Homo sapiens: one gene and its partners. The protein of the gene in region 3 purifies or fractionates together with the protein of the main gene of each other region. This does not show direct contact. Each region holds a gene or a part of one and is shown on either strand. Other genes may lie near its edges.

Region 1 (4,261 bases), on a different chromosome or scaffold from region 3:
ACTGATCATCCATTCAACAAGTACTAAGTGGCTACTTGCCATTATATACTTGGTACTGTAATACAAAGATGACTATGACCATGGTTTGTCCTATGGGAGCTCAGTTTTTGGGGGTGGGCCGTGAGATTAGTAATAACAGAGGTTTTACAAAGTGCTATGGGACTACAGTATTAAGAAGCAGCTAAATTCTGTCCAGACTAATGAAAGAAACTTCAGAGTAGCTGATATTTAAGCCAAATCTTAAAGAAGTTTGCCATGAAAAAAAGAAAAGGTATTCAAGGCCAGGAGAATGGCATGTACACAACACAGAAGCATAAAAGATCATGGCGTGTACAGAGAATGGCAAGCATTTCCATATTATTTTTTTTTGAGACAGCGTCTTGTTCTGTCACCTAGGCTACAGTGCAGTAACACAATCACAGCTCACTAACAGCCTGACTTCCTGGGCTCAAGCAATCTTTCTACCTCAGCCTCCCAAGCAGCTGGGACTATGGACACACGCCACCACGCCCAGCTAATATAATTTGTTGTCATCGTTGTTGGAAATGAAGTCTCCCTATGTTGCCCAGGCTGGTCCTGAACTCCTGGCCTCAAGAAATTCTCCTGCTTTGGCCTCCCAAAGTGCTGGGATTACAGGCGTAAGCCACCACGCTCAGTCCATATAATTTTAACATAGGACACGTTTAGAGAAAGGGAGAGAAGCAGAAGGCGATGCCCAGGACCAAGAATAAACAAGGGCTATGTAATAAGCCTTGAATCCCACTGTAACAGGCAGAAGACTGAGAACCATCCTCTTGATCATGATTGTAGTTGTGATCTACTTTCTACTGAATGTCTATCACATATGTGACTGGGGTAAGGTATGATTATGAGATCAAGGACTACTCTAGAATGAAAAAGCCTTTTAAGAGAAATAGGCCAGGCATGGTGGCTCACGCCTGTAATCCCAGCACTTTGGGAGGCTGAGGCAGGCGGATCACTTGAGGTCAGGAGTTAGAGACCAGCCTGGCCAACATGGTGAAACTCTGTCTCTACTAAAAATACAAAAATTAGCCAGGCATGATGCTGTGCACCTGTAGTCCCAGCTACTCAGGAGGCTGAGGCAGGAGAATTGCTTGAACTCGGGAAGCAAAGACGGCAGTGAGCTGAGATCGCACCATTGCACTCCAGCCTGGATGTTGGTGCGAGACTTCATCTCAAAACAAAACAAAACAAAAAACAGAAATAGGGAATACAGTACCCTTGAGGTCTCTAAAGTCTAGTTGTCCCTCTTTTGCACCACAGGTACTAATCAAAATATAGTATCCAATCTGACATGAATGCAGAGTCTACCAGCCACTGCTGGTGCTCATTCCAGGAAAGAAAAACATACCTTGCCATAGGAGGTCTTAAATGCTGCTTTAATTTTTTGCCTCTGATCATTGGAACGGTTGGCCACCACATCCACAATTGCCTGCTCATCTGTCCCTGGAAGAACCACACATGTTTAAGTAAGGACAAAGTACATGCTAGGTGCTGCTTGAGGTCATCTTTTTTTTTTTTTTTTTTTTTTGAGACGGAGTTTGTCACCCAGACTGGGGGTGCAAGTGCAATGGTGTGATCTAGGCTGACTGCAATCTCCACCTCCCAGGTTCAAGCAATTCTCCTGCCTCAGCTTCCCGTGAAGCTGGGATTACAGGCATGCATCACCATGCCCAACTATTTTACTTTTTATTTTTAGTACAGATGGAGTTTCGCCATGTTGGCCAGGCTGGTCTTGAACTCAGGTGATCTGCCCACCTCGGCCTCCTAAAGTGCTGGGACTACAGGTGTAAGCCACCACACCCAGCCTGAGGTCATCTCTTAGAATGCTTACAAGGCACTAGACATCAGATTAAATCCAGGTATGCGCACCCAGGCTGACACATAAACTTGGGTTTATGAGATAAGGTTTATTTTTACTTTAGAACTGATTACTTTAACTTATTAAAAAAGACAAAAATTTGTTTTCCTTACCAAAACCCTTCATTGCCTTACGAAGAATTTCTGCATCTCTTATAGCATCGAAGTTGGCAGCTGGTCGGATAGTTCCTTGAGTGACCTGAGTCACTGTGGCAGGCTGAAAATAAAAGGCATAAAATCCGTGTCAGCATTTCCAGTAAGTTTCTAATGAGGAAACTTAAAGACTTCCCCAGACATCAATCTTAAGTAAGAAGGCCAATGTTTGGGTTTTAAGGCAAGGATATGAGCATTTTATTACCAGAGCTCATTATGGAACAGACAGGAAAGACCTATCCCCCTTCAGGACAGATTTTTCTCCTGCCAACAGATAGCCAGACACCAAACTTCCAGGAGACAAGATGGCCAAACTTGTGAAATTAAAGTCACAATCTTACTATAGTTTCCTTTTTGGTAGAATAGGAAGAAAAAAGAAGACTGATCCCTGAATGGTGTGAGATGAGCGACAATGTTTGATTTAAAAACAGAAGAATATAAAATGGCTTTAGTGAAGTAGCACATGAATGCCCAGTGAGATTTCAAACCAGCAATATAATTTTAGTAATCTCTCTTAATTTCCTATATGGACCCTGATTATTATACATGAAATAAATCTATATGAAAATTAAAAATTGCCATTTAGCAAATACTATGGTAGTAACTGTTTCAGGCAAGAATCAACAGTGGGTGCTAAAATTAGGTGGCAAAAGTATAAAGAAACAGGATATTTGTATAACCTATAACATTATAGCAGAGAAACCTTGCAGGCACCAACTTAAATGATCAAAATTAATTATCACCAGTAATGGAATAAGTCAATAATAAGTGTCTCCTGATATGATGCACTGGGGGCACAAAATCATTTCTGTGGTACTCTTGCCAAAAAGGCATGACCTGGATTTAACCATGAGAAAATATCAGACAAACCCAAATTAAGAAATATTTTATAAAATAACTGACAGTGTTCTTCAAAAGCATCAAGGGCATGAACAACAAAGACTGAGGAACTATTTCAGATTAAAGGAGACTTAAGAGACATGACAATAAATACAACATTGCATTCTGGATTTGATCCTGAACCAGAAAAAGGACATCATTGAGACAACTGGTGAAACTGAAATAAGGTCTGTAGGTTGGGTAACAGTACTATATCGATGTTATTTCCTGATTTTGATCATTGCATTGTGTTTATGTAGGAAGTTAACATTTGGAGAATCTGAGTAAAGGGTATATACAAATTATTTGTACTATTTTGCAAGTCTAAAATTATGTCAAAATTAAAAGATAAAACAATTTAAAATACAAAGCTATGAAATAATTCAATAGTTTCCCCCAATTTTTTATTTTTTAGAGATAGGCTCTCACTCTGTTGTTCAGGCTGGAGTGCAGTGGCACAAACATAGCTCACAGTAACCTTGAATTCCTGAGCCCAAGCAATCCTCCTGCCTCAGCCTCCTGAGTAGCTAGCACTACAGCCATGTGCCACCATGCCCAGCTAATTTCTTACTTTTGTAGAGACGGGGGTCTTGCTATGTTGCCCAGGCTGGTATCGAATTCTTGGCCTCAAGTGATCCCCCTGCCTTGGCCTCCCAAAGTGCTGGAATTACAGGTGTGCGGCCAGCCCAGAATAATTCAAGAAGTTTCTTAGGGTGTTCAAGTCAGGGCTTAAGAGGGATGGGATGAAGATGATGCTCCACTACTTTTTAAAAAAATTTTAATTGTAACAACACATTTCTTGTATGTTTGAATGTTGACCTAAAATAAAGATTACTGTTGTAAAATAAGTGTTTTCACTGCAGAAAACACACATATACACACACACAGTTTATTTAATCCAATACCTCCAAAGTATTATCATTTAAACATGCAATCAATACCATTTCAAAATAAAAGATGATTCAATGCTTTTTAGACAACAGAAACTGTATTTAAAGTTATACACATTGAATACAGCAGTACACCAGCATTTGTGGGGGCAAAGCAACTGAGGAGATGAGAACAAGCCCCATCTTTCAGCAGCTTTTCAAGATAACACTTTTATGGGTCAATAGCTCCTCCCACTCATATATATTTTTACTCCAACATTTTCTTCTACCAGTAAGCCTTAGCATCCATCCTCTACTAGTTTCCAAGCTAGGGCTGTAAGCAGAGAACTAACAAATATACCTATAGTGGTTTTAATAGAAAGCCAAAATTATTCTACTTGTAGCAAATAGTCGAGTATAAAAAAATTTTATAAGCCTTCATGTCTCAAGAAACTAAGTTTCCTTTGATGTAACCGCTG
Region 2 (4,261 bases), on a different chromosome or scaffold from region 3:
TGGGAGGAATGCTTGAGCCCAGGAGTTTGAGGCTACCATGAGCTATGATTGCACCACTGTACTCCAGCCTGGGCAACAGAGTGAGACCCTGTCTCTAAAAAAGAAAAAGGAAAAAAAAAAAAAAGAACTGGAGGCCAGGTGCAGTGGCTCACATCTGTAATCCCAGTACTTTGGGAGGCTGAGGTGAGCGGATCACCTGAGGCCAGGAGTTCAAGACCAGCTTGCCCAACATGGTGAAACCCCATCTCTACTAAAAATATAAAAATTAGCTAGGTGTGGTGGCAGGCGCCTGTAATCCCAGCTACTCAGGAGGCTGAGGCACGAGAATAGCTTGAGCCCAGAAGGCGGAGGCTGCAGTGAGTGGAGATCATGCCACTGCACTTCAGCCTGGGTGACAGAGCGTGACTCTGTCTTAAAAAAAAAAAAAAAAAAAAAAAAAAAAGAACTGGCTCTGCAGAGGCTTCCAGTGGAGGTGAGGCTGGGCCTGAAGTTTGGGAGCATCTGGTTTAATAATTAGGGGTGTGGGGTGAGGTGTGGAACCCAAGCGGTGTCTCCACAGGCAGGAACAGCCCTGAATTTGGCCACCCTCAGGGCTGTTCCTCATGGAGCCCAGGCATGGCTGTGAAGCTGGACCTGAGCCCTGCATCTGTTACTAGGAAGGGGAGGGTGTGGAGGAGCTCTTCTTGGGGCAGGGCAGGGTGAAGACAACTGTTCCAGGCCAGCAGGGGCACAGTAAAGAGGATGGCAGAGCCCCATGCAGAGATCAGATGGGAAAGGGAGACAAGGTTGTGTTCTGAGGACATTCTTGGATTTTATGAAAAGACTTTAAAAAACCCCCGAAACCCAGAAACATTTTCTTGAATTTTCACCTCAGCTCATCATATCTCTGCTCTTAGCAAGTGTGCCCGATTTAATAAAATCAGTACTGGCAGCCAGCAGCATGTTTTTGTTCTAGAAACTTAGACTACTTTTTTTTTTTTTTTTTTTTTTGAGATGGAGTTTTGCTCTTGTTGCCCAGGCTGGAGAGCAATGGCACAATCTGGGCTCACTGCAACCTCTGCCTCCCGGGTTCAAGTGATTCTCCTGCCTCAGTCTCCGGAGTAGCTGGGATTACAGGCATGCGCCACCACACCTGGCTAATTTTATATTTTTAGTAGAGACGGGGTTTCTCCATGTTGGTCAGGCTGGTCTTGAGCTCCCGACCTCAGGTGATCCACCCGCCTCAGCCTCCCAAAGTGCTGGGATTACAGGCATGAGCTACTGCACCCGGCTACCTTAGACTGTCTTTTACAAAATAAGAGGAATGGCCAGGCATGGTGGCTCACGCCTGTAATCCCAGCACTTCGGGAGGCCGAGACAGGCAGATCACGAGGTCAAGAGATTGAGACCATCCTGGCCAACATGGTGAAACCCTGTCTCTACTAAAAATACAAAAATTAGCCGGGTATGGTGGCGGCCGCCTGTAGTCCCAGCTACTCAGGAGGCTGAGGCAGGAGAATCGCTTCAACCCAGGAGGCGAAGGTTGCAGTGAGCCAAGATTGCGCCACTGCACTCCAGCCTGGGTGACAGAGCAAGACTCTGTCTCGAAAAAATAAAAAAATATAAAAAAAGAGGAATAAATGAATAATAAGTAAAACAGTACAGAAAGGTTATAAAGTCAATAGTAAGTCTCTACCCTCACCACCCCATTCACTTGCCCCTCAGCACCCCACCCCTCAAAAAAAAAAAAAAACCCACTCCCTAGAGGTAAATACTATGAACCATTTTGAATCTGTATAGGGCACCAACAGGAGCCTGTGTGGTGTGTACTCTCAAGCTTCTGGGTAAAGCTTGCTCTGGGTCTCTTCTGGGCTGAACCTTTTCCAGGAAGGGGGAAGGGAGAAGGGACCGCAGCTGTGGTGTGGCAGAGGCAGGCACAGGACCCTTCCAGAGAGGCTTCTCAGGGTCCCGGGAGGGTGATCAGCTGCCCTGCTTCAGTCAGGCGTCACCGGCTCGCCTGCCGGCCCCTGGCCCGGATTTTCTCCACTGTGTCTAAGGGCTTTTTTTCACCTTCTCAGGATCCCTCTGTGACCCAGCTGACCAACGCCCCGCAGGGCGGCCTGGCGGAATTCAACCCCTTCTCAGAGGTTGGTGAGCAGGCCCTCTTTCCAAGTCCCATGGCCCTCTAGGGTGGTGCTGGGGTGTCCGGGGCAGGGATCCTTGGCAAGGACAGAAGCAGCTCTGAGAAGCGGCAGTCCTCAAAGGGACAGTCCTAACATGAACCCGGGAGGCAGGGTAAGGATGGCAAAGCCACCAAACGCTCTGTAAAATTCTCCCCTTGGGATCTGTGACCGGGGCCCCTCCCCAAGGAGGTCAGGGCAGTGCCCAAGTGTGCTGGACCCAGCGAGCCCAGGGGTGCCGGGTTAGGGATCAGATGGCCTGAACCTGAGGCTTGTTGGCTGGGAAGCCACAGGGGAAGGCCCAGTGCAGGCCCCGAGGGAGTCCCCTCACAGGCAGGGGCACATCACTCATCCTGCTGTGGGTTTGCCCCCTCGTCACCAGCTAATGGAGTCCCACTCAATTCTGTCTTTTGATTTGTTCCATGTAGACAAATGCAGCGACAACAGTTCCTGTCACCCAACTCCCTGGGTCCTCACAGCCAGCGGTTCTCCAGCCATCAGTGGAACCAACCCAGCCGACCCCCCAGGTAGTGCTGACAAAGAACTCTGGCCTTTTCTCTCCAGTGAGGGAATCATCCAGACCAGTAGCTGAGCCCTGAGGCTGGGGGCAAGCAGAGAGCTTTCAGCCTTGGCCCCCTAAGGGCCCTCTTGCTAATTTGTTCGGAGCTGGTCACCTACAAGTAGAGGGGCTGCTCTGCCAATTAATATCCTTACTCCCTCCATCCCACCCACCACCACCACTGAGAAATAAGCTCTACTCACCAGGCCGGGCTCCTCGGTGCCTCCAGAGAGGGCATTTGTCCCTGTTGTACCCCTCCAGGTCCTCCTCGGGCCTTTGGCTTGTTCTCTCTTCCTTGGGGCCCAGAATCTCTCTCTTTTTTTTAACTTCATTAATTCTCACCTTCCTTCCTGTCTTCCTTTGTCCCTTCACCAAATACTGTGAATCTTGCCTGCTTTGTGCCTGGTGCTCCACTGCGCCGCCTCACTGCCCTCCCGCTGCACCCCTCGCTGCCCCTATGAGCGTGACCCATGGTGGAGTTGTGTGTTGCAGCTCCTGCTTAGACAGGCCAGCAAGTTCCCGCCTGCCCAATTCCTGGCAGTGAGCGAGCTCTCAGAGAGGCAGATGCTCCTAGGAGGAGAAAGTATTCTCAGAGACAGCTACATGCGAAAGCTTCCGAAGGTAGGCCTAATGTAGATGAGCAGGAGGAAGGGCAGGGCACCCGGAGCCTGCCCCACACCCCTCCCAGGCCCCAGAGCCCTGTGGAGGTGAGGCAGGCCTTACATGCGGAGTTGCCTTTCTGTGCAGCTGGGTGGTGGGCTGTAGGGAGCTGGGTCCTTCTCAGCTGGCGTCACAGACTTGGAGGAGGTCAAGACCCCCAGCGTGGCACAGCGGGGTCAGTTCTGCTCCTGCTTCCGCCCCCAGTGCCTGAAACTTGGCTCTCCACGTCAGCCTTAGGTCTTTGAAGAGCTTTTGGAGAGGTTGGTGTGTGTATACATGTGTGTGTGTACACATGTGCCTGGTTTGTCATCCTGTGAAATGACCAGTTTGAGATCTCTCCCTAAAAAGGACTGTAGTCTCATCCTTCAGGAGGAACCTGGCCCAAATGGCAGCAGCTGCCAGCAGGTGCAGGGCCCCGGGGCCAGGTCTGTTCAGCCTCACATACAGTCAGTCCCTTACTGTTACTCAGAGGCTCTACCCCGCCTGGAGAGGAGATAAGTGTGGACTCTGCATGCCACTAAAGCCAGGCAGGGCAGGGCCACACCTAAGGGGCTGTCCTGGGGTGTAGCCAATTGCAGTTTAGGGGGACCTCAGGAGGCAGCTCCTGGGGGCAGGCCATGGGGCAGGGTGCTTGTACAGATCCTGAGGCTCAGGCACACGCCATCTGCCTTCACGTGTCTCCCCTTTCCACTCACTGTTAGCAGGCTTGCACTGTTTTCCTTCTCACACATCCACCAGGCTCTTCAAATGAGGCTTGGGTCTGTGGGTTTCTTATTATAGTTTAGTTTCTTGTGAGGTCTTTTTCCCAAAGGTCACAATCACTGAGCGCTGCCTTGACCCAGTATGGGGAAGAGGTGGAGAAGCCAATGGGGGTAGTTTTCCC
Region 3 (4,242 bases):
CTCTTGAATTCCTGGTAGTAGCCAAAGCAGCCGGTGACGACAACCACAGCAATGAGAGCGATTGCCAGGTACAGCTGGGGACAGGGAAGGGGTGGGGTTATTCAGAGGGGCCGGAAGCTGCCTGCCTGAGGCCACCGACCTGCTCCCTGGTGCCCTGGTTTTCTTGGTTTTCCCCATGCTTTTCCCCACCTACTAGGAAGCTCCATGCACCATTCCCTGTAGCCTTTAGCCCCCTCCCATGTCCCTCATGTCCCACACTCGCCTGCTCTGTCTTCTCAGTGTCTTGTGTTTCTGTGTATATTTCATATCCTCTGGCCCTGAATCCTCAATCTTCCATGTCCCCATATCTGTGACTTGTGCCCCAAATCACTGTGTGCCTTGGTCTGACGTGTTCCCTTCTCCTGTGTCCCCAAGCCTTGCATTCCCCATGTCCACTGTCCCATGTCTCCTCCTGTCCCCATGGCCTGTATTCCCCGTGTCTCCAGTTTCACATCCTGGGTTTTCCATAATCTGCTGCCACCCTCTGTGTGTCCCCTGGGCCCCCTTGTCCCTGCATCCTCACATCCCCGTCCCTGCGTGTGCTGCAGACCTTGTACGTCATGGTCTGTGTCCTCTGTGGCCACGGCCCCCATGTTCTAGCTCCCCAGTCACTGTGTCCCGTGTCTCCCATGTCTGTGTATCTCCGAGTTCCCATCCTGTGTCCCATGGCCATGACTTTTCGAGCCTCTGTCCCATGTCACATGTCCCTGAGTCCCCATGTCCCTTGCCCTCATCTCTGCCATATGTCCAATGTCCCTTGCCCTGCACCTCCATTTCCTCTCTGTCTCTGTGCTTCTATGTCTCATGTTTTGTGTCTCTCTATGTGCTGTGTCCTGAGGCTTGGGTCCCTGCCCTGGTGTCCTATGTCTGAGTCCCAGGGTCTCCTATTCCCCGTGCCTCAGTCTGTCCTGTGTCTGCACTGCATGTCCTCTGCTTCCAAGTCCCATCTCTTTTTTTTTTTTTTTTTTTTTTTTTTAAGATGCAGTCTCGCTCTGTCGCCCAGGCTGGAGTGCAGTGGCATGGTCTTGGCTCACTGCAACATCCACCTCCTGGGTTCAAATGATTCTCCTGCCTCAGCCTCCCAAGTAACTGGGATTACAGGTGCCCGCCACCATGTCTGGCTAATTTTTGTAATTTTAGTAGAGATGGGGTTTTGCCATGTTGGCCAGGCTGGTCTCGAACTCCTGACCTCAGGTGATCTGCCCGCCTCGGCCTCCCAAAGTGCTGGGATTACAGGCATGGGATTACACGCCCGGCCTCCAAATCCCATCTCTTACGTATCACATTGCCATACTCTTTATGCCCCCACCTATGTCCCCATACCCAAGATTCACCCCAGTGTCCCTGTGTCCTGTGTCCTTGGGTCTGCCCCATCCATATCCCAATGTCCTTCACCCTCCATGACCCCTGTCTTGAGACTGCCTTTCGTGTTCGTCTATCCCCATCCTTCTCTGCCCCTCTTGTCCCAAGTCCCAGGCTCAGTGTCTTCCATCCCCAGGTCCCCATGTCCTGAGCCTGTCCCCACAACATGGCTCACATTGTCGTCGGTGGTGAGGTCCCCCTCACTAGCCTGGATGGCAAAGGCGATGAGGCAGATGGCGGCGGCAACCCACATGAGGCACTGCAGGCCCCCGGCCAGCTGCCTCGCGAACTTGACGTACTCTGGGGTGCCCCGTGGTGGCCGCAGTGCGTTGGGCCCATCCCGCAGCAGCAGCTCAGCAGCCAGGCTCGCAGAGAGGCCCTGGGACAGAGGGGCAGGGCGAGGCGGTCCTGGGGGCTTTCCTCCACATGCACACCCCGTGGAAAGCCCCCTGCTTCAGTTTCCCTTCTCCAGCTTGGTCTGTCCTGCTCCTTCTCATCTCTTTGTCTCTTGGTTCCTGCCCCCACCCCATCTCTCCCTCCCTCCTTCATCTCTCCCTTTGTCTCTCTCTCCTCGCTCCCCTTTCTATGTGTCTCTCTCCTGCTGCTCTCTCCTTATTTGTCTCTGCCTTCTCTGTCTTGCTGTCTCTTTTCAGCTACTCCTCTCTCCGTCTCTGTGTGTCACCCTTTCTCTCTAATGCTTTCTCCCTTCTCTCCCTCTCCCTCTCTCTCCCTCTCTCCATCTCCCTCCCTCTCTCCTCCCCTCCCTCCATCCTTTCCTCTCTCCCTCCCTCCCTCTTTCCTTTTCTGCCTCCCTCCCTCTCTCTATTTCTCCATATCTTCCTCTCTTCATCTCTCCCTCTCTCTCCCTCTCTCCATCTCCCTCCTTCCATCTCCCTCTCCCTCCCTCTCTCCTCCTCCCCTTTCTGTACGCTCCCAGTCTCCAGCTCACCTTGGTGGCACTGGTCTGGTATTTCTGTTCCAGCTCCGCCACTGACAGCTGGTGGTCGTTCTGTGTGGTGGGGTGGGGCAGGGTGCTTGCTCTGGGCTCTCCTGGCCCCCTCCCCGCCCACTGCCTGGTTCCCAGCCTACCCTCCAGCTCCCGCCCCTCCCCAGTCAGAGCTCACAATCTCCATCTCCTTCTTCATGTTCTCCAGCTTCTCCTTCCTCTTGCCACCCCCGCCACCCGCCTTCTTCTTCTTGCTCATCTTGGCAGCCATGTCCCCGCCAGGGCCAGGACCCAGCTCCACCGAGTAGAGCTCATAGTTCTCCTGGGAATGGACAGGATGGAGGGAGGGAGAACTCAGATTCCACTGCAACCCCTGTCCCCACTGCACCCCGGACCCCTGGGCCCCACTCACGGCCTTCCCCATGGTGCCCGGTGCCTGTGCTCCCACCCAACAGAGCCTGGGCCCGGACCAGTCCTGATATACCCAGGGAGGGCGGTGGGGTGGAGCAGAACCGCCCGACCACAGCTGATTACAGGCTCCTTGGGGTGACCTCTAGGCCTGGGCACCTCAGGCATTCCCTCCTGGGCTGGCCCCCCCCTCCCCTGCCCAGATCCCCCCATGTCAACCTGCCCTGAGATCAGGGAGCCCCTGGGAACCGCTGCAGCAACAAGAAGAGCAAACATAAGGTGCTCATTATGCGCTGGGCATTGTGCTGACGGCTTCCATGTGCTAACTTATTTAACCTTCCAATAACCCTTTGAGGGGACAAGACCCTTTACAGATGGGGAAACTGAGGCATGGAGGGGTTGAGTCATTCTCCTATGGCTCCATCACAGGCTAGGACATAATGGAGTGAGAACCAGATCAGCTGGCTGCAGAGTGTCCTCTTTCAGTCTAAATAGCACGTGCCTGATCAACTGGAAGAGGAGGGTGCTCCCACACTCTTTTTTTTTTTCTTTTTTTTTTTGAGATGGAGTGTCACTCTGACACCCAGGTTGGAGTGCAGTGGTGCAATCTCAGCTCGCTGCAACCTCCGCCTCCCGGGTTCAAGTGATTCTCCTGCCTCAGCCTCTTGAGTAGCTGGGACTACAGGCACATGCCACCACACCCAGCTAATTTTTGTACTTTTAGTAGAGACGGGGTTTCACCAGGTTGGCCAGGCTGGTCTCGAACTCCTGACCTCAGGTGATCCACCCGCCTTGGCCTCCCAAAGTGCTGGGATTACAGGCGTGAGCCACCATGCCCTGCCATGCTTACAACACTCTCTATGGTGGCTGAATGTTTACTGAACTCTGACTATTCACTATGGGCTGGGTGTGCTCTGTGTGTCACTCAAATGGTTTCCTTAGCATCTAACAGCAGCCCTGTAAAGCAATATTCTCTTCTTAGCCCCCATCAGGGACTTTGCAGAAGATTTCAACGTCTAAGAATTAGGGACAGGGTTCCAGCCCGGGCTTGACCCCAGGGCTTGACCCCAGAGCCTAGCTCTTCTATGGCACCACCAATGGAAAAACCCAAACTTCACTGCAGCAGCACCACACACATGCCAGGCTCTGCACGTGTGACCTCACGGGTCTTTGCAAAAAACCCTGTGCAGGCAGAACTATCATTCCTGTTGTGCAGAGGGGGAAACTGAGGCTCACAGGGACTCACATATCCAGCTACAGACTTTACAGCTCTCAACCATTCCCCGTCCCTACCCTAGATGGGGAAACCAAGGTGCAACATGGGGAAAGGATGTGTCCAAGGGTCTTGGCTTGATCTTGGTGTTGGGTGACAGATGCCAGGAGGCCTGGGGACTCCCTCCTCATCCCTCAGGTAGGGACCTCCATGGGCAGCAGCAGCGAGGGGCTGGGCCAGTGGAATGGTGGGGACCTTGGTATGTTATGGGGTG
Region 4 (4,261 bases), on a different chromosome or scaffold from region 3:
GAGGAATTATGAGGGCCTAAAATTAGTTTCAGTAGGACTGAAGGGGTTTACAAAAGGGGGTTACAAATTAGAATATATATGGAAGGTAACAAAGAGGGAGGACCCTAAGATGACTGCTGTCTTTCTGACTTCGTTGCCATTAGCATATTCAAGGTAATGTCATTAAGAGGAGGAGGAGCAGATTTTATGGGAAGTCAAAGGTTTCAGATGTATTGAGTTTGTGGTCTCTTTAGATCTTTTGGAGGTATCCTATAGGATACAGCTATATATATGGATCTAGAATTTAAAATATGAGTTTGGGCTGCAGATATAGCAGATATCTGCCTGCAAAGGAGAGAAGGAATGGTTAGGAAAATTGAGGGAAATAATGCCTTGGCATCACTATTAGAATTTCAAGAAAAGAGTACCCCAAAACGTAAGGTGCAATAGAATGGTAAAGTAAAATAAGGACTAGTTGATAAAATAAGGACTAGTTAGCAAGAGCAGTTTCAGTAAAATCAAAAAGCCAGATTTTAGTAGGCTGAATGAATGTGTGGTAAGAAAGTGAAGACAGCATAAACCGCTGTTTGACTGTGAAGATGGGAGAAATTTGGTGGTTACAAAAAAAAGCCACTAGTTCAGCTTACAACTCAGTTGCTTAAATGCATTCTCTGGAGACAACCATTGTATTTGGTATGCAACAAAAGTCTTTATTTGCATTTCCCATTTTATCCTACTGACAAGAGAACTCAAGGGTCAAGGTTTAATAAAATTTTTACTGCTTCATCAGACATTCTTAAGTAAAACTGGTGGGGGTTTTTTGTTCTTTTTTGTTTTTGGTTTTTTGTTTTTAACTGCAAGTATGTGGCAGTGAAATAGAGTTTGGTATTCTTCCTGATTCTTATTAAACCCGGCAGTTTTCCCCACCAGTTTATCTGCTTCATCAGTACAAATGTCAGCACAGTGTAAAAGGCAAATAATGTCTTAGTATCGTTAGGAAAATGTTTTACCTTCATGAACTCCTGAAAGAGCCTTGGGAGCTTTCAGGGGTCCACAGACCACGCATTGAGAATTGATGAGGTAAACACCACTGGGGACCAGAAACAGAACAGAAAATACGGCAGGGAGAAAGACTATTCCCAAATTTGGTAATTATTAATAAATCTGAAGAAAGCTCAACCAACTATCTGGATTTACGACTTAAATAGAGCTGAGTACTTAAAAGTGTAGAAATAAAGAGATATATATAGCCTCTCAAGACCTGGACCAATCTACTTGCAGGCTTAAGGTCTGGATTTGTGATAACGTGTATGTTCACTTATGTTGGTGGTTTGGGGGTCCCATCATAAGGTGTGTTTGTGGACCAGGGGACTCAGAAGGCCAAGCAGAAATGACCATGACCATAAAGCCGCTAGACAGGGATAGAAGCAGGAGGGGACAATCAAGTTGAGCCTATATCAAATATCCTAAAACACATGAAGAAAACTAATTTTTACTTAAAAATTCAAATTATGTCAGTGGCAACAAATGCTGTCAGTTTTCCACAGAGTGACAGGCTTACTTCAAGACAGCCAGCCAGATCAACAATCAGGATATTGATTCACTCCAGAAGACATGAAAATAGTAGAGCAATTAGAAAATGATTTCTATTTTTAAAAATATAAATTATATTTTAAATTTTTAAAAATATAGTCTCTGTCTTGTCCAGGCTGGAGTGCAGTAGTGTGGTCTCGGCTCAATGCAACCTCGCCTTCCAGGTTCCAGAGATTCTTCTGCCTTAGTCTCCCGAGTAGCTGGGATTACAGGCGCTCGCCACTACATCCAGCTAAGTTTTGTATTTTTAGTAGAGACGGGGTTTCACCATGCTGGCCAGCCTGGACTCTAACTCCTGACCTCAAGTGATCCACCCGCCTCGGCCTCCCCAAGTGCTGGGATTATAGGCATGAGCCACCGCGCCTGGCTGATAAATGATTTTTAAATAAATATATTTAGGTTCCTCAGAGATTTAAGGTGACATAAATGTGTTTTCAACATACAATGATTAGGAGTTAGCAAAAAACTTCTAGCTGTTTATTTCAGTAGGAACTCTAGAGTTTACTTCTCATAATCCAATTTTTTTTTTTTTTTTTTTTGGAGACGGAGTCTTGCTCTGTCACCCAGGCTGGAGTGCAGTGGCATGATCTCAGCTCACTGCAACCTCCATCTCCCAGGTTCAAGTGATTCTCCTGCCTCACCCTCCCAAGTAGCTGGGACTACAGGCGTGTGCCACCTTGCCCGGCTAATTTTTGTATTTTTAGTAGAGACGGGGTTTCACCTGGTTTCACCAGGCTGGTCTCAAACTCCTGACCTCAGGTAGTCCGTCCGCCCTGGCCTCCCAAAGTGCTGGGATTACAGGCGTGAGCCACTGCAGCCGGCCATAATCCAAATTTTTAAGGATTATGGAATTATCTTGGCAGGCTATTTAGAATTTTCTACTATTGTACATTAGAAGCAAAGGGAGATAGAGTGAAACTGAAGCACTTTGTAACTGACTTTATTTCCCAGTGGGAATAAACTGAAATACCACCATCAAAAACAATACTTTTTTGAAATGAATAACTTTAGTAAACATTTTGGACTTTGACTCATAAAAATCATACCTTGGCTCTAGGCATCTAATCTTTTGATTGTAAAGGCAAACGTGCTATAATATTTCATTTTAAGTGCTGAATGATCATTTGACTTAAAACCAGCATACATTTCTTTTGCATGTAAACACTCATACATAATATACTTTTATATCTATTTTTGAAGATTTCAGTTATCACTTTGATAAACTAAACCTTGGACAGAAAGAAATTTAAATAGATGATTTCAGATTAATGATGAAATTAAATAGCAATGAAGATCCTGCAACTAGAAACGTGTAAACAACACTCATAAACCAGGTGAATACTAGTATTCTCCAGTAGAATCCTCAGAATTAGCATGGTCTAGCAATAGAAGTTAAGGCTCCAAACTCTTTTTAAATTTTATTTATTTATTTTTTGAGACAGGGTCTCACTCTTGTCACCCAGGCTGGAGTGCAGTGGCACGATCACAACTAATTGCAGCCTTGACTTCCCCAGGCTCAAGCTTTTCTCTCACTTCAGTCTACTGGGTAGCTGGGACTGCAGGTACACACCACCACCCCCAGCTACTTCTATAATTTTTTATAGAGACAGAGTCCCACCATGTCACCCAGGCCAGTCTCGAACCCCTGGGCTCAAACGATCACCTGCCTTGGCCTCCCAAAATGCTGAGATGAACCACTGCACCCAGCCTCCAGAGTCTTTTTTTTTTTTGAGACAGAGTCTTACTCTGTCGCCCAGGCTGGAGTGCAGTGGCATGATCTCGGCTCACTGCAACTTCCGCCTCCCAGGTTCAAGCAATTCTCCTGCCTCAGCCTCCCAAGTAGCTGGGATTACAGGTGCCCACCACCACACCCAGCTAATTTTTTTTGATATTTTTAGTAGAGATGGGGTTTCACCATGTTGGCCAGGCTGGTTTCGAACACCTGACCTCAGGTGATCCACCCGGCTCAGCCTCCCAAAGTGCTGGGATTACAGGCATGAGCCACTGTGCCCAGCCTCCAGAGTCTTTTTTGCACTCCTATTAGTGCAAAATTTTATGGACAGAGCCACAATATGCATCTACAACTTAAGATGCATGTTTTACTATGTCAGTTAGTATCTTAAGGTATATTATATACTCAGTGCAAATTTTGTTTATATTTTTAAATCCTTGCTTCAGATACTATTCTGATAATTTTTTATTGTTGTGCCACCGTCTTGTGATCTGATTAAGTAGTCTGTTTTTACCTTGTAATATGGCTGTTGATTGTAATCATAGAGTAGTATGAATGCTTCCATTTTCTCTTTTATACATGAGTGTGTGTGTTACCAATCTATTTCTTTGAAGACATTTTAAAGCCATGGGTCAATTTTGTGAAGGTTGATTTGGTTAAAACTAGACAAATTATTCCATAAATCCAGGCCCACTCACATTGTAATGCATGAACACTAAAAGTGAAAGAATAGATGAGGTTATCACTGTCTGTCCTTCCATGTATGAGATTCCCCTTACCTTCAGGATACCCAGCATGCTGTACTGACATGTGACCTTCTGATGTGCATGCCCAGCATGGGTTTCAGTGGTATATTAATTGCAATAAAGCTTCAATTCCTTATTTAAGTCTGAAAGTAGATCTAAATAGAAGTTTACATATTTTCTTCTGGTACTCCAGTCTACTTTGGAGACTAGT
Region 5 (4,261 bases), on a different chromosome or scaffold from region 3:
AGTCTGTGGAATCAACAATGTTCAGGGCTTTATTTTTTTGAGATAGGGCCTCACTGTCACCCAGACAGTGCCGAGATGATAGCTCACTGCAGCCTCCAACTCCTGGACCCAAGTGATCCTCCCACCTTAGCCTTTCAAGTAGCTAGGACTACAGATGTGTGCCACTATGCCCGGCTATTTTTTTTTTTTTTACTTTTTTTGAGACAGAGTTTCACTGTTGCCCAGGCTGGAGTGCAGTGGTGCGATCTCGGCTCATGGCAACCTCCACCTCCCAGGTTCAAGCAATTCTCCTGCCTTAGCCTCCCGAGTAGCTGGGATCACAGGTGCCTGCCACCACACCCAACCAATTTTTTGTATTTTTAGTAGAGACGGGGTTTCACCATGTTGGGCAGACTGGTCTCAAACTCCTGACCTCAGATGATCCACCCACCACGGCCTCCCAAAGTGCAGGGATTACAGGCATGAGCCACCATGCCCAGCCTAATTTTTAATTTTTTTTAGTAGAAACGAGGTCTCCCTATGTTGCCCAGGATGGTCTCAAACTACTGGCCTCAAACAATCCTCCCACCTCAGCCTCCCAAAATGCTGGGATTATAGGAATGAGGTACCGCACCCAGCCTGCTCAGGGCTTTTAAATTAAATTACAGGTCAGGCATGGTGGCTCACACCTGTAATCCCAGCACTTTGGGAGGCCGAGGTGGGCAGATCATGAGGTCAGGAGATCGAGACTATCCTGGCTAACATGGTGAAACCCCGTTTCTACTAAAAACACAAAAAATTAGCTGGGCGTGGTGGCGGGCACCTATAGTCCCAGCTACTTGGGAGGCTGAGGCAGGAGAATGGCATGAACCCGGGAGGCGGAGCTTGCAGTGAACCGAGATCGCGCCACTGCACTCCAGCCTGGGCGACAGAGCAAGACTCTGTCTCAAAAAAACAAAACAAATACAAAATTAGCCGGGCGTAGTGGCGCATGCCTGTAATCCCAGCTACTCGGGAGGCTGAAGCAGGAGAATCGCTTAAACCCAGGAGGCGGAGGTTGCGGTGAGTCAACGTCGTGCCATTGCACTCCAGCCTGGGCAACAAGAGTGAAACTCCATCTCAAAAAAAAAAAAATTAAATTACATTAATTTTTTTTTGAGACAGGGCCTTGCTCTGTCACCTAGGCTAGAATGCAGTGGTGCAATCTGGGCTCACTGCAGCCTCGATTTCCCAAGCTCAGGTGATTCTCCCATCTCAGCCTCCTGAGTAGCTGGGTCTACAGGGAGGGGCCACCACGCCCAGCTAATTTTTCATTTTTCTTTTTTCAAAATTATTATTATTATTTAGGGACAGGATTTATTTATTTTTATATATTTGCAACCAATTCTCACTCTGTTGCCCAAGCTGGAGTACAGTGGCATGATCTTAGCTCACTGTAACCTCCGCCTCCCGGCTTCAGGTGATTTTTGTGCCTCAGCTTCCCAAGTAGCTGGGACTACAGGCGTGAGCCACCATGCCCAGCTAATTTATGATTTTTTTGTTTGTTTTTTGTTTTTTTCTTTTTTTTTGTGAGACAGAGTTTCACTCTTGTTGCCCAGGCTGGAGAGCAATGGCACGATCTTGGCTCACTGCAAACTCCGCCTCCCGGGTTCAAGCGATTCTCCTGCCTCAGCTCCCCGAGTAGCTGGGATTACAGTCATGCGCCACGACACCCAGCTAATTTTGTATTTTTAGTGGAGATGGGGTTTCTCCATGTTGGTCAGTCTGGTCTCGAACTCCTGACCTCAGGAGATCCACCCACCTCGGCCTCCCAAAGTGCTGGGATTACAGGTGTGAGCCACTGCGCCCGGCAATTTATGTATTTTTTTTAGGGACAGGGTTTCATCATGTTGGCCAGGCTGGTTTCGAACTCCTGGGCTCAAGCAATCCTCCTACCTTGGCCTCCCAAATTTCTTGGATTACAGGCGTAAGCCATGGTGCCCAGCCTGTTCAGGGCTACTTTTATTTTTTTGAGCAGTATTTGGTCATCTGGGTACAGGCTGAGCAGGTAGATAGTTTGACAGGTCTAGAAGCGGGGTGTGGCACTGAGGCAAAAGTAGCAGTTTTGGGGAGAGAGCAAGGATGTTGCAGTGAGCCGAGATCGCGCCATTGCATTCCAGCCTGGGCAACAAGAGTGAAACATGGCTCTCGGTGGGATGGAGAGGGAAGAGAAAGTGGGGGGAGATGATACATGTGGAGCTATAGGACATTTGTCATGTTCAATGGGGTTGAAGAGCAGGTACAGCGAGGATAACTGGGGGAGTTGGAACCTGACAGGGTCTACTCAGAGAGTAGGATTCTGGATCCTTGAAAACTTCCTGATACAATATATCCTGTCTATCTCAGAGTCTCCAGCACCTACCACAATGCCTGGCACTTACTAGATGTTCAGTAGATCCTCAATGGATAAGTATTCCAGAGATGGAGTGCGGGTAATGACAAGATGCAGGATACGGGCCAGGCACAGTGGCTCACGCCTGTAATCCCAGCACTTTGGGAGGTCAAGGCAGGTGGATCATCTGAGGTCAGGAGTTTGAGACCAGCCTGGCCAACATGGTGAAATCCTGTCTCTACTAAAAATACAAAAATTAACTGGGTGTGATGGTGCATGCCTGTAATCCCAGCTACTCGGGAGGCTGAGGCAGGAGAATCACTTGAAACTGGGAGGCAGAGGTTGCAGTGAGCTGAGATCGCACCAATGCACTCCAGCCTGTGAAACAGAGCAAGACTCCATCTCAAAAAAAAAAAAAAAAAAAAAAAGATGCAGGGTGTGACCAGGGAAGTGGAGTGCCTGGACTGGAGGTGACAATGATGAAGTAATTAATTCATTTATCCAACAAGTATTTTGGGGCATCTACTACGTGGCAGGTACTAAGCTAAGCAGGTGGTGGTGAGATAGAGACTAAAACAGTCTAACTTTGTTCTCATGGTGCTTACAATCCACTGGAGAAAACCAATACTAAACTAACAATCATTCACGACTACATAATTATGACTGGAATCATTGCTTTGAAAGAAAAGCAAAGGATGTGAGGCTCAGTGTGGTGGCTCACACCTGTGAGCCCAGCACTTTGGGAGGCTGAGGTGGGAGGATCTCTTGAGCCCAGTTTGAGACCAGCCTGGGCAACATAGAGAGATCCTGTCTCTTAAAAAAATAATAATAATTTGACCAGGCACGGTGGCTCACACCTGTAATCCCAGCACTTTGGGAGGCCAAGGCAGGTGGATCTCCTGAGGACAGGAGTTCGAGACCAGCCTGGCCAACATGGTGAAACACTGTTTCACCCTTTTTAGGCTCTACTAAAAATACAAAAAAAATTAGCTGGGCATGTTGGCGGGCACCTATAATCCCAGCTACTTGGGAGGCTGAGGCAGGAGAATTGTTTGAACCTGGGAGGTGGAGGTTGCAGTGAGCCAAGATTGCGCCATTGCATTCCAGCTTGGGCAACAAGAGTGAAACTCCATGTCAAAAATAATAATAATAATAATAATAATAATTTTTTAAAAAAGAAAAATAAAAAATTAGCCCAGTATGGTGGTGCATGCCTAGAGTCCCGGCTATTCAGGAGGCTGAGGCAGGAGGATGGCTTGAGCTTAGGAGCTGAAGGTTGCAGTGAGCTATGGTCATGCCACTGCACTCCAGGCTGGGTGACAGAGTGAGACCCTATCTCCAAAAAAAGAAAAGAAAAGGGGCCGGGCGCCATGGCTCATACCTGTAATCCCAGCATTTTGGGAGGTGAAGGTGGGCTGATTGCCTGAGGCCAGGAGTTTGAGACCAGCCTAGCCGACATGCCGAAACCCTGTCTCTACTAAAAAAATACAAAACTAGCTGAGTGTGGTGGTAGGCGCCTGTGGTCCTAGCTACTCAGGAGGCTGAGGCAGGAGAATCACTTGTACCCAGGAGGCAGAGGTTGCAGTGAGCTGAGATTGCACGACTACACACCAGCCTGGGCGACAGAGCGAGACTCCGTCTCAAAAAAAAAAAGAAAGAAAGAAAGAAAAAAGAAAAGAAAAGTGTGTAAAGAAAGACTATAACCAGGATCCTGATTTAGATTGCAGTTCAGGGAAGGCTTCGTTGAGGAACTGACGAGTCTAAACTGCCAAGATGAGTAATTTGCCAGGCAAAGAGACTGTGGAAAAACATTCAGGCTGAGATTCACCATTTGCGAAGGGTCTGAAATGTGAAGATGGTGGCCTCTTGGAGGAAGGGAAAGATGGTCCATGTGGCCGGTGAGGTGGATGT
Region 6 (4,124 bases), on a different chromosome or scaffold from region 3:
AAAACAAAAATTCAGAGGAGATTCGAAAGTCCATTGCAGAGTAGAACAGGCAAAAGAGACTTTGTAGCTTTGAAACACAAAGAATAGGTACTATTTAGGAAGATGTGGGAAGAGGTAAGTCCAGAAAAAGAAATGGCCAGAACAGGCCGGGCGTAGTGGCTCATGCCTGTAATCCCAACACTTTGGGAGGCCCACGCCTGTAATCCCAGCACTTTGGGAGGCTGAGGCATGCGGATCATCTTAGCTCAGGAGTTTCACCAACATGGTGAAACCCCGTCTCTACTAAAAACACAAAATTAGCCAGGCGTGGTGGCACGTGCCTGTAATCCCATCTACTCGGGAGGCTGAGGCAGGAGAATCGCTTGAACCTGGGAGACGGAGGTTGCGGTGAGCCGAGATCATGCCATTGCACCCCAGCCTGGGCAACAAGAGCAAAACTTCATCTCAAAAAAAAAAAAAAAGGAAAAGAAATGGCCAGAACAAAGCATTTGCGATAAGACTGAGCAAGGAATTTGGGGCCAATGAATAGGCCAGGTGGACATACCAGGTTGGGTGACAGTGTAAAAGTCTTGAAATACCAGGTTCAGGAGACTGAACTTCATTTTGCAAGTTTTTGAGTAAGAAAATCCACTTGGTAAAATGTTGCTTAGGTCGTGAGAATAGGAGACAAGGCTAAAACATAGGACATGACTCCAATAATGGAGGTGTGAAGTGACGATGACTTCCTCTGGGATACACGGACCCACACCAAGGCTCTGTGAGTGATGGGACATAGAGGTCAAGAGAAAGAAGCTTCAAAACTATTGATTAAAGGGTCAAGAAGAAAGAATATCTTTCAAAGAAAAGGATTAAATTCCTTAGATATGTTTAATGGTAGGCATTTGAAATAGGAACATTAGAAGGCTTTTGGCGGTATAGTCCAGGCACAGTGGCTCATGCCTGTAATTACAGCACTTTGGAAGCTGAGGCGGGTGGATCAGTTGAGGGTAGGAGTTCGAGACTAGCCTGGCCAACATGGCGAAACCTCATCTCTACTAAAAGTACAAAAATTAGCCAGGCGTGGTGGTGCGTGCCTGTGGTCCCAGCTACCCAGGAGGTTGAGACGGGAAGATTGCTTGAGCCTGGGAGGTGGAGGTTGCAGTGAGCCAAGATCGTGCCCACTGCTCTCCAGCCTGGGAGACAGAGTGAGACTCTGTCTCAAAAAAAAAAAAAACAAAAAAAAGGAAGGAAAGAAGGAATTGAGAGAGAGAAAGAAAGAGAAAGAAAGAAAAAGGAAGGAAGGAAGGAAGGAAGGAAGAAAGAAAGAAAGAAAGAAAGAAAGAAAGAAAGAAAGAAAGAAAGAAAGAAAGAAAGAAAGAAAGAAAGAAAAAGAAAGAAAGAAAGAAACAGAAAGGCAGGCTTTTGGAGGCATAGAGGAAGTACTAGGAAAAGAGGTCAGGACATGCAAAAAATAAATTGGACAGTCATCTCTTAGAGGTGATGACCTAAGTCAAGAACCCATGCAGTAGATAGCAGATACTTGCACCCAATAAAACCATAAGACATATTTAGTTATTCTCATTTTACAGATAGAACCCTTAGGCCCAAAGAAGTTAGTAACATTCCTAAGATCACATAACATGTAACTAATAGAGTTGAGAGTGGAACCCAGGTTGGACTGAATCTGATGCTCATGTTCTTTCCATGCCCCTCTCAAGGTAGGGGAAAATACAGAAATAAATCACAGAGGAGAAAATTAACTTTTAGGGCATGTTTATAGTTTGCAAAAAGAGGAAGCAGTAAAGAAACATGGAGAAGTCTAAGCTATAGGAGGAGAGGAGGAAAAATGCCAAGTCATGGAAAGGAAAAAAGCATCTTTTCTTTTTCAAAGAAAAGATGATCCAAATTCTTCAGGAAGATATCAAGAAGGAATACTGACAAAGGCTAAGGAATTGACAACTGAGTGATACCACGTGGGTATCTATTCCACCCGGTTCTGTTGAGCACATTGTGTCTGCTGCTTACTGCACGACTCCATAACTTCCCTAACTTCCATAGACAGGTCAGGATAAAAATTGCACTTCAAAACTATTTAATTTTTTTTTTTTTTTTGAGACAGAGTTTTGCTCTTGTCACCCAGGCTGGAATGCAATGGCGCGATCTCGGCTCACTGCAACCCCCACCTCCCGGGTTCAAGTGATTCTCCTACCTCAGCCTCCTGAGTAGCTGGGATTATAGGCACCCGCCACGATGCCCTGCTAATTTTTGTATTTTCAGTAGAGATGGGGTTTCAGCATGTTGGCCAGGCTGGTCTTGAACTCCAGACCTCAGGTGATCCACCCACCTCAGCCTCCCAAAGTGCTGGGATTACTGGCGTGAGCCACTGCGTCTGGCCCAAAAATATTTAATTTTAAAACCCTCTGAATATACCGTACTTTACTTCTCTGAAGTTAGCTTTAATTTTGCCTAATTTTTCTTTTTCTGATTATAAATGTATTAAATACATAGAGCAGAAATTTTGAGGGAAAAAGCAAAAAGAAGAAAAATCATCTATAGTCCACACACAATATCACAATTGTTAATATTTTTTATAACTTTTGTAGGTTTTTTTCTATGCATATTACAAATAGGTGTGATCCATCATATACATGGGACAGATATTTCATGTAAAATTTGTACCTCATATTTTCACTTAACGTTATTGCATAAGTAGTTTCCTGTGTTACTGAAAATTATTGACAAATATTTTCATGGCTTCCAAATATTTAATCTTGGATATTCATTCCATCACTCATATAATCATTTACCCATTTGGGGGAATTTACATTTTTTAAATTTGATTATTAATAGGTGTTTTCAAAATCCATTCATTTTCATTTCATTTCATTCTAAGTGAAGTAATTTCATATTCATTAGTCATTTGTATGTTTGCTTTTTTAAAATTTATTTATTTATTTATTTATTTTGAGATCAGGTTATGAGACTGGCTAATTTTTGTATTTTTGTTAGAGACGGGGTTTCACTATATTGCCAAGGCTGGTCTCGAACTCCTGGGCTCAAGCAATCTGCCCTCTTCAGCCTCCCAAAGTGCTGGGATTGCAGGCATGAGCCGCCACACCTGGCCCATTTTCTCTTTTTTTTAAACTTAACTTTTATTTTAAGTTTGGGGTACATTTGCATGTTTGTTACATAGGTAAACTGTGTCATGGGGGTTTGTTGTACAGATTATTTCATCACCCAGGTATTAATTCTACTACCCATTAGTTATTTCTCCTGATCCTGTCCCTCCTCCCAACCTGTACCCTCTGATAGGCCCCTGTGTGTGTTGTTCCCCTCTGTGTATTCATGTGTTCTCATCATTTTGCTCCCACTTATAAGTAAGAACATGCAGTATTTGGTTTTCTGTTCCTGTGTTAGTTTGCTAAGGATAATGGCCTCCATCCATGTCCATTGCAGCACGATTCACAATAGCAAAGACATGGAATCAACCTAAATGCCCATCAATAGTAAACTGGTTAAAGCATTTTCTCATTTGATTTTATCTGATCATTTTATCAGATAAAATCATGCTCAAAAGAGAATATCATTTAAAATATCTGAAGCATTTATCTGAAGCATTTAAAGTGTCTCTATCCTGGCGGGTGGATGCTTGAGCCCAGGATTTTGAGGCTGCCATAAGCTAGGATCTCACCACTAGCCTGGGTAACAAAGTCACACCTTGTCTCTAAAAAATTAATTAACTAATTAATTAATTGACTGTCTCTATCCCTTCATCTTACCGCTTATTCCCTGACCTAAAGTGAGATGTTAATCATATATAAACTTTTTTTTAGATTTGAAACCACAATGACATCTTGGGGCCTTGTCGTCTCTTCTATCAACAATATCGCGGAAAATGTTAATCACAAGACATACTGGCAGTTTCTTAGTGGTGTAACACCTTTGAATGAAGGTGAGGGAAGAAAAGACATAGGCGTTATCTTCCATAGTCTGAAGGCTACATTCTTTAATTATTTTTTCATTTAATTTATTCATTCATTCACTTAATTAATAATTATGAGATCATGTGTATATACAATAATTCTATAAACAGTGATTGCTTATATATGTATACACACATATATTTTGTGTATATATATATATAT
Region 7 (4,261 bases), on a different chromosome or scaffold from region 3:
CATGCTGACGAATCACAATCCCACAATGAATAACATTGTGGGAATGAAAACGGAAACTGCCAGAGGAAACAACCAGTTTAATTTATTACAGAATATTCTTCAGAATCAACGTCTGTTCTTTGAAGAATATTGATTTGGGGAAGGTGAAAATTGTAGTACTGAAGCCTCCTTTCTCTTTGCTCTGCTTTTAAACTAAGGAAGTGGTCACAACAGGTTCAGGTGTACAACACAGGCTAGGTAGTATCAATGGAGAATGCAGTCAGAGGCAAAAGGGATTGCTAAGTATGGAGGCAAACTGAAGGATGAGGGAGTCACCTAAACACATGCAAATATATTTTAACCAGAAAAAGTAAACAGTTCTAACAAGAACTCTGTGGTGGTCAAATAGCAGGTCTCTAGATGAAATTCAGTCCCTGTATCTCCTGTTAGAAACACTTCCTGTAGTATATGCTGTCTATACTGAGATGTCCCATCTTCTTGCCTGATCCACTCCTCCTTCCATCTTGAATGATTTCCAGTGGTAGTACAGTACATCACAGTTTTCTCTGTCTCCACTTATATCTCTCCCCTTTTCCTTAACTCATCTCAGGTATAGCTATTTATAGTCTCATGTTCTTGCTTCCTTATCGCAGACCTGTTGTGTGTCTCTGTTACAGAGGGAGCAGATCTGAGCCTGAGACTGGTAGATGGAGTCACTGAATGTTCAGGAAGATTAGAAGTGAGATTCCAAGGAGAATGGGGGACAATATGTGATGACGGCTGGGACAGTTACGATGCTGCTGTGGCATGCAAGCAACTGGGATGTCCAACTGCCGTCACAGCCATTGGTCGAGTTAACGCCAGTAAGGGATTTGGACACATCTGGCTTGACAGCGTTTCTTGCCAGGGACATGAACCTGCTATCTGGCAATGTAAACACCATGAATGGGGAAAGCATTATTGCAATCACAATGAAGATGCTGGCGTGACATGTTCTGGTAAGTTAAAACCAAACCAAAACCAAAACACTAAACAAAAAGAAAAGCAGAAACGGAAAGTCCTGTGCTCCTTAAGAGTAGGAACGTGCTCCTTAAGAAGTAGAAATGCCTAGTAAATTCCTTGCTGGGAATTCCTTTATACCTGTAATCTTTGACACATTCTTTATTCAACTAGTTTGGAAGGTTGTCTGACGGCATTCTCTGTAATAATTACTCAGACTGCTTTTATGGAGCACACTTCAAACTCAGAATCTACCTGGAGCTCAGAGAGACAAAATTTCCTAGGAATCTGTTTTTAAATTTTTTTAATTTACTTATTTTTTTACTTTAAGTTCTGGGATAGATGTGTTGAATGTGCAGGTTTGTTACATGGGTAAACATGTTCCATGGTGGTCTGCTTCACGTATCAACCTGTCATCTAGGTTTTAACCCCCCATGCATTAGGTATTTGTCCTAATGCTCTCCCTCCCCTTTCCCCCCACCCATTGACAGGCCCCAGTGTGTGATGTTCCCCTCCCTGTGTCCGTGTGTTCTCATTGTTCAACTCCCAGTTATGAGTGAGAACATGCAGTGTTTGGTTTTCTGTTCTTGTGTGTTAGTTTGCTGAGGATGATGGTTTCTAGCTTCATCTGTGTCCCTTCAAAGGACATAAACTCATTCTTTTTTATGGCTGCGTAGTATTCCATGGTGTATATGTACCACATTTTCTTTATCCAGTCTATTATTGATGGGCATTTGGGTTGGTTCCAAGTCTTTGTTATTGTAGATAGTGCTGCAATAAACATACATGTGCATGTGTCTTTATAGTAGAATGATTTATAATCCTTTGGGTATATACCCAGTAATGGGATCGCTGGGTCAAATGGTATTTCTAGTTCTAGATCCTTGAGGAATCACCACACTGTCTTCCATAATGGTTGAACTAATTTACACTCCCACCAACAGTGTAAAAGCTTTCCTATTTCTCTACATCCTTGCCAACATCTGTTGTTTCCAGACTTTTTAATGATCGCCATTCTAACTGGGATGAGATGGTATCTCATTGTGATTTTGATTTGCATTTCTCTAATGACCATTGTTGATAAGCTATTTTTCATATGTTTGTTGTCCGCATAAATGCCTTCTTTTCAGAAGTGTCTGTTCATACCCTTCACCCACTTTTTGAGGAATCTCTTTTAAAGCTGAATTGCTCATATCTTTCTGCCATTGACAATTTTTATCAACCCTTGAAACTACAGTCCCATTTCTAACAAAAATTTATGGTCTATATTATTGTTTCTTAAAAAGTCAGGAAATAAGTTACCTATAATTTTCAATGCATCAGTATCAGAGAAGAAAAAAGACAAAAAAAAATCCTCTGGAAGCTAACCTCCATATGTATCGATGGTTTAAGTTTATGTTTCTTTTGCAGATGGATCAGATCTGGAGCTAAGACTTAGAGGTGGAGGCAGCCGCTGTGCTGGGACAGTTGAGGTGGAGATTCAGAGACTGTTAGGGAAGGTGTGTGACAGAGGCTGGGGACTGAAAGAAGCTGATGTGGTTTGCAGGCAGCTGGGATGTGGATCTGCACTCAAAACATCTTATCAAGTGTACTCCAAAATCCAGGCAACAAACACATGGCTGTTTCTAAGTAGCTGTAACGGAAATGAAACTTCTCTTTGGGACTGCAAGAACTGGCAATGGGGTGGACTTACCTGTGATCACTATGAAGAAGCCAAAATTACCTGCTCAGGTATGACTTTCAATCAACTTGTTAAGAAGAAGGGTGTAAATTTCCAGTACTACCTTTGAAATTGAAAAGAAACATTGGTCCTTATGACTAGATCACTCTCAAGAAACCAGGAAATATCTACACAAATTCCACTGGGAGAGTCAGATAAGTTTACAATTCATGTTGCACTTTAGATAGAAGTGTTTGGGTTTTGCTCACTTTGGTTTTTGAGTAATTTTTAGATCAATAGAGGTATAAGATTAAGGAGGATTAAAATTTAAAAAATAGAATTCAATATTTCTTTCACAGGATGTCACCAAAAGATTTAAAAAATAACCATGTTAGATAAACTGACATAACCTTCAGCTCCCTCTATTGTACTGTGAAAGAATTTTCTTTTTTTTTGGAAAACCTGTGAATATTTCACTGCAACCTCTTTAAAAAGCTCAAAAATGAGTTGTAAACTGGTTAGGTTTGTGGATAATCTTTAGTATTTTATGCTAATTATATTTATACAAATGTTAACTTTGTTGAAAAGTGATGCTTTTTAAATAACTCTAAAGTAAATGTAACTTTTACTCATGCAACAAAAAGGCTTTAGAAAACACAGTGTACAAGAAAACCATTAAACATGTAGAGACCTCACAGAATGGAAACTTGTACGTGCTGCATGTCCTCTAACCAACAATATGGCTCCAGATACCTCCCAACCTAGGCATGCAGTGAGGGGCATTTCCCTGATGTTACAAATGGTGCTTACCTCTAGTTAAGTAGAAATTATCCTCCGATTGAAAAAAGGCAATCATTTAAGATATAAATTTGAATTTCTATATTACTTTTTAAAAAATATTCTGGACCAGGCAATATAATCACATGGTTTAAACTTCAAAATAAAAAAGTGTAAACTCTTCCCCCACTACTATCCAATTCTTTTCCTCACAGACAACTTATGTGGTTGGAATATTTATATATTATTTGAGATATTTCATGTAAATACAAGAAAATACAAACAAATCTATATATAGCTATCATTTGCTTTCATTATCCAAATGGTGGCATGTTGTATAAATTGTTTTGTACCTGAAGTATTCACTTAGTAAAATTTCTTGATCAAATTTCACATCAGTATTTAAAGAGCTGTCTGAAATTACTTCCATATCTATAACATTTCTTATAATTTATTACCGTGTGTATTCATTTATTCTTTTAATTTTTTACCTGACAAGGTTAGCCATTCTTTTACCTAAATTTTTTTTTAAAAAACCATTATTTGGATTTTAAAAAATTAATGTTACTTTTATTTCCTTTCTAATTCATTAAAATTTACTTTTCTTTCTAATAATTCTCTTCAGATTTCCTAAAGTTTGATTTCTTTTTGGCCCCCAACTTCTTGAGTTGAATCTTAAGTTTTATTTCTTCTGATTTACTAATATAAATATTTTAGGTTATAGATTTTCCTTCTAAATTTATAATGGTTTGTATATTTTCTTATTAATTGTATTTTACATTGATTAGCATTAAGTTCTGCTGTATCTAAAAGAGAAACAAATAATAGTGACTGAAGAAAGACAGT

What was found.
Region 1: the proteins of ATP4A (region 3) and ANXA7 purify together in Homo sapiens (affinity purification with mass spectrometry, with the first as the bait; one study listed by BioGRID). This does not show direct contact.
Region 2: the proteins of ATP4A (region 3) and SCAMP2 purify together in Homo sapiens (affinity purification with mass spectrometry, with the first as the bait; one study listed by BioGRID). This does not show direct contact.
Region 4: the proteins of ATP4A (region 3) and SYPL1 purify together in Homo sapiens (affinity purification with western blotting; one study listed by BioGRID). This does not show direct contact.
Region 5: the proteins of ATP4A (region 3) and TFR2 purify together in Homo sapiens (affinity purification with mass spectrometry, with the first as the bait; one study listed by BioGRID). This does not show direct contact.
Region 6: the proteins of ATP4A (region 3) and CBLIF purify together in Homo sapiens (affinity purification with mass spectrometry, with the first as the bait; one study listed by BioGRID). This does not show direct contact.
Region 7: the proteins of ATP4A (region 3) and CD163 purify together in Homo sapiens (affinity purification with mass spectrometry, with the first as the bait; one study listed by BioGRID). This does not show direct contact.

What each region holds. Positions count from the first base shown.
Region 1 is NC_000010.11:73,386,317-73,390,577, forward strand, and holds part of ANXA7 (annexin A7), read right to left. Parts: intron 2,099-4,261; coding exon 1,996-2,098; intron 1,468-1,995; coding exon 1,373-1,467; intron 1-1,372. UniProt on the Homo sapiens protein: Calcium/phospholipid-binding protein which promotes membrane fusion and is involved in exocytosis.
Region 2 is NC_000015.10:74,852,446-74,856,706, reverse strand, and holds part of SCAMP2 (secretory carrier-associated membrane protein 2), read left to right. Parts: intron 1-2,057; coding exon 2,058-2,126; intron 2,127-2,587; coding exon 2,588-2,686; intron 2,687-3,210; coding exon of another isoform or gene 3,211-3,339; intron 3,340-4,261. UniProt on the Homo sapiens protein: Functions in post-Golgi recycling pathways. Acts as a recycling carrier to the cell surface.
Region 3 is NC_000019.10:35,560,859-35,565,100, forward strand, and holds the start of ATP4A (potassium-transporting ATPase alpha chain 1), read right to left. Parts: upstream 2,801-4,242; 5' UTR 2,772-2,800; coding exon 2,760-2,771; intron 2,670-2,759; coding exon 2,526-2,669; intron 2,411-2,525; coding exon 2,351-2,410; intron 1,781-2,350; coding exon 1,577-1,780; intron 75-1,576; coding exon 1-74. UniProt on the Homo sapiens protein: The catalytic subunit of the gastric H(+)/K(+) ATPase pump which transports H(+) ions in exchange for K(+) ions across the apical membrane of parietal cells.
Region 4 is NC_000007.14:106,105,593-106,109,853, reverse strand, and holds part of SYPL1 (synaptophysin-like protein 1), read left to right. Parts: intron 1-2,772; exon of another isoform or gene 2,773-2,906; intron 2,907-4,261.
Region 5 is NC_000007.14:100,634,688-100,638,948, reverse strand, and holds part of TFR2 (transferrin receptor protein 2), read left to right. Parts: intron 1-4,261. UniProt on the Homo sapiens protein: Mediates cellular uptake of transferrin-bound iron in a non-iron dependent manner. May be involved in iron metabolism, hepatocyte function and erythrocyte differentiation.
Region 6 is NC_000011.10:59,831,485-59,835,608, reverse strand, and holds part of CBLIF (cobalamin binding intrinsic factor precursor), read left to right. Parts: intron 1-3,812; coding exon 3,813-3,931; intron 3,932-4,124. UniProt on the Homo sapiens protein: Promotes absorption of the essential vitamin cobalamin (Cbl) in the ileum. After interaction with CUBN, the CBLIF-cobalamin complex is internalized via receptor-mediated endocytosis.
Region 7 is NC_000012.12:7,493,529-7,497,789, reverse strand, and holds part of CD163 (scavenger receptor cysteine-rich type 1 protein M130 isoform b precursor), read left to right. Parts: intron 1-656; coding exon 657-977; intron 978-2,388; coding exon 2,389-2,709; exon of another isoform or gene 2,710-2,762; intron 2,763-4,261. UniProt on the Homo sapiens protein: Acute phase-regulated receptor involved in clearance and endocytosis of hemoglobin/haptoglobin complexes by macrophages and may thereby protect tissues from free hemoglobin-mediated oxidative damage.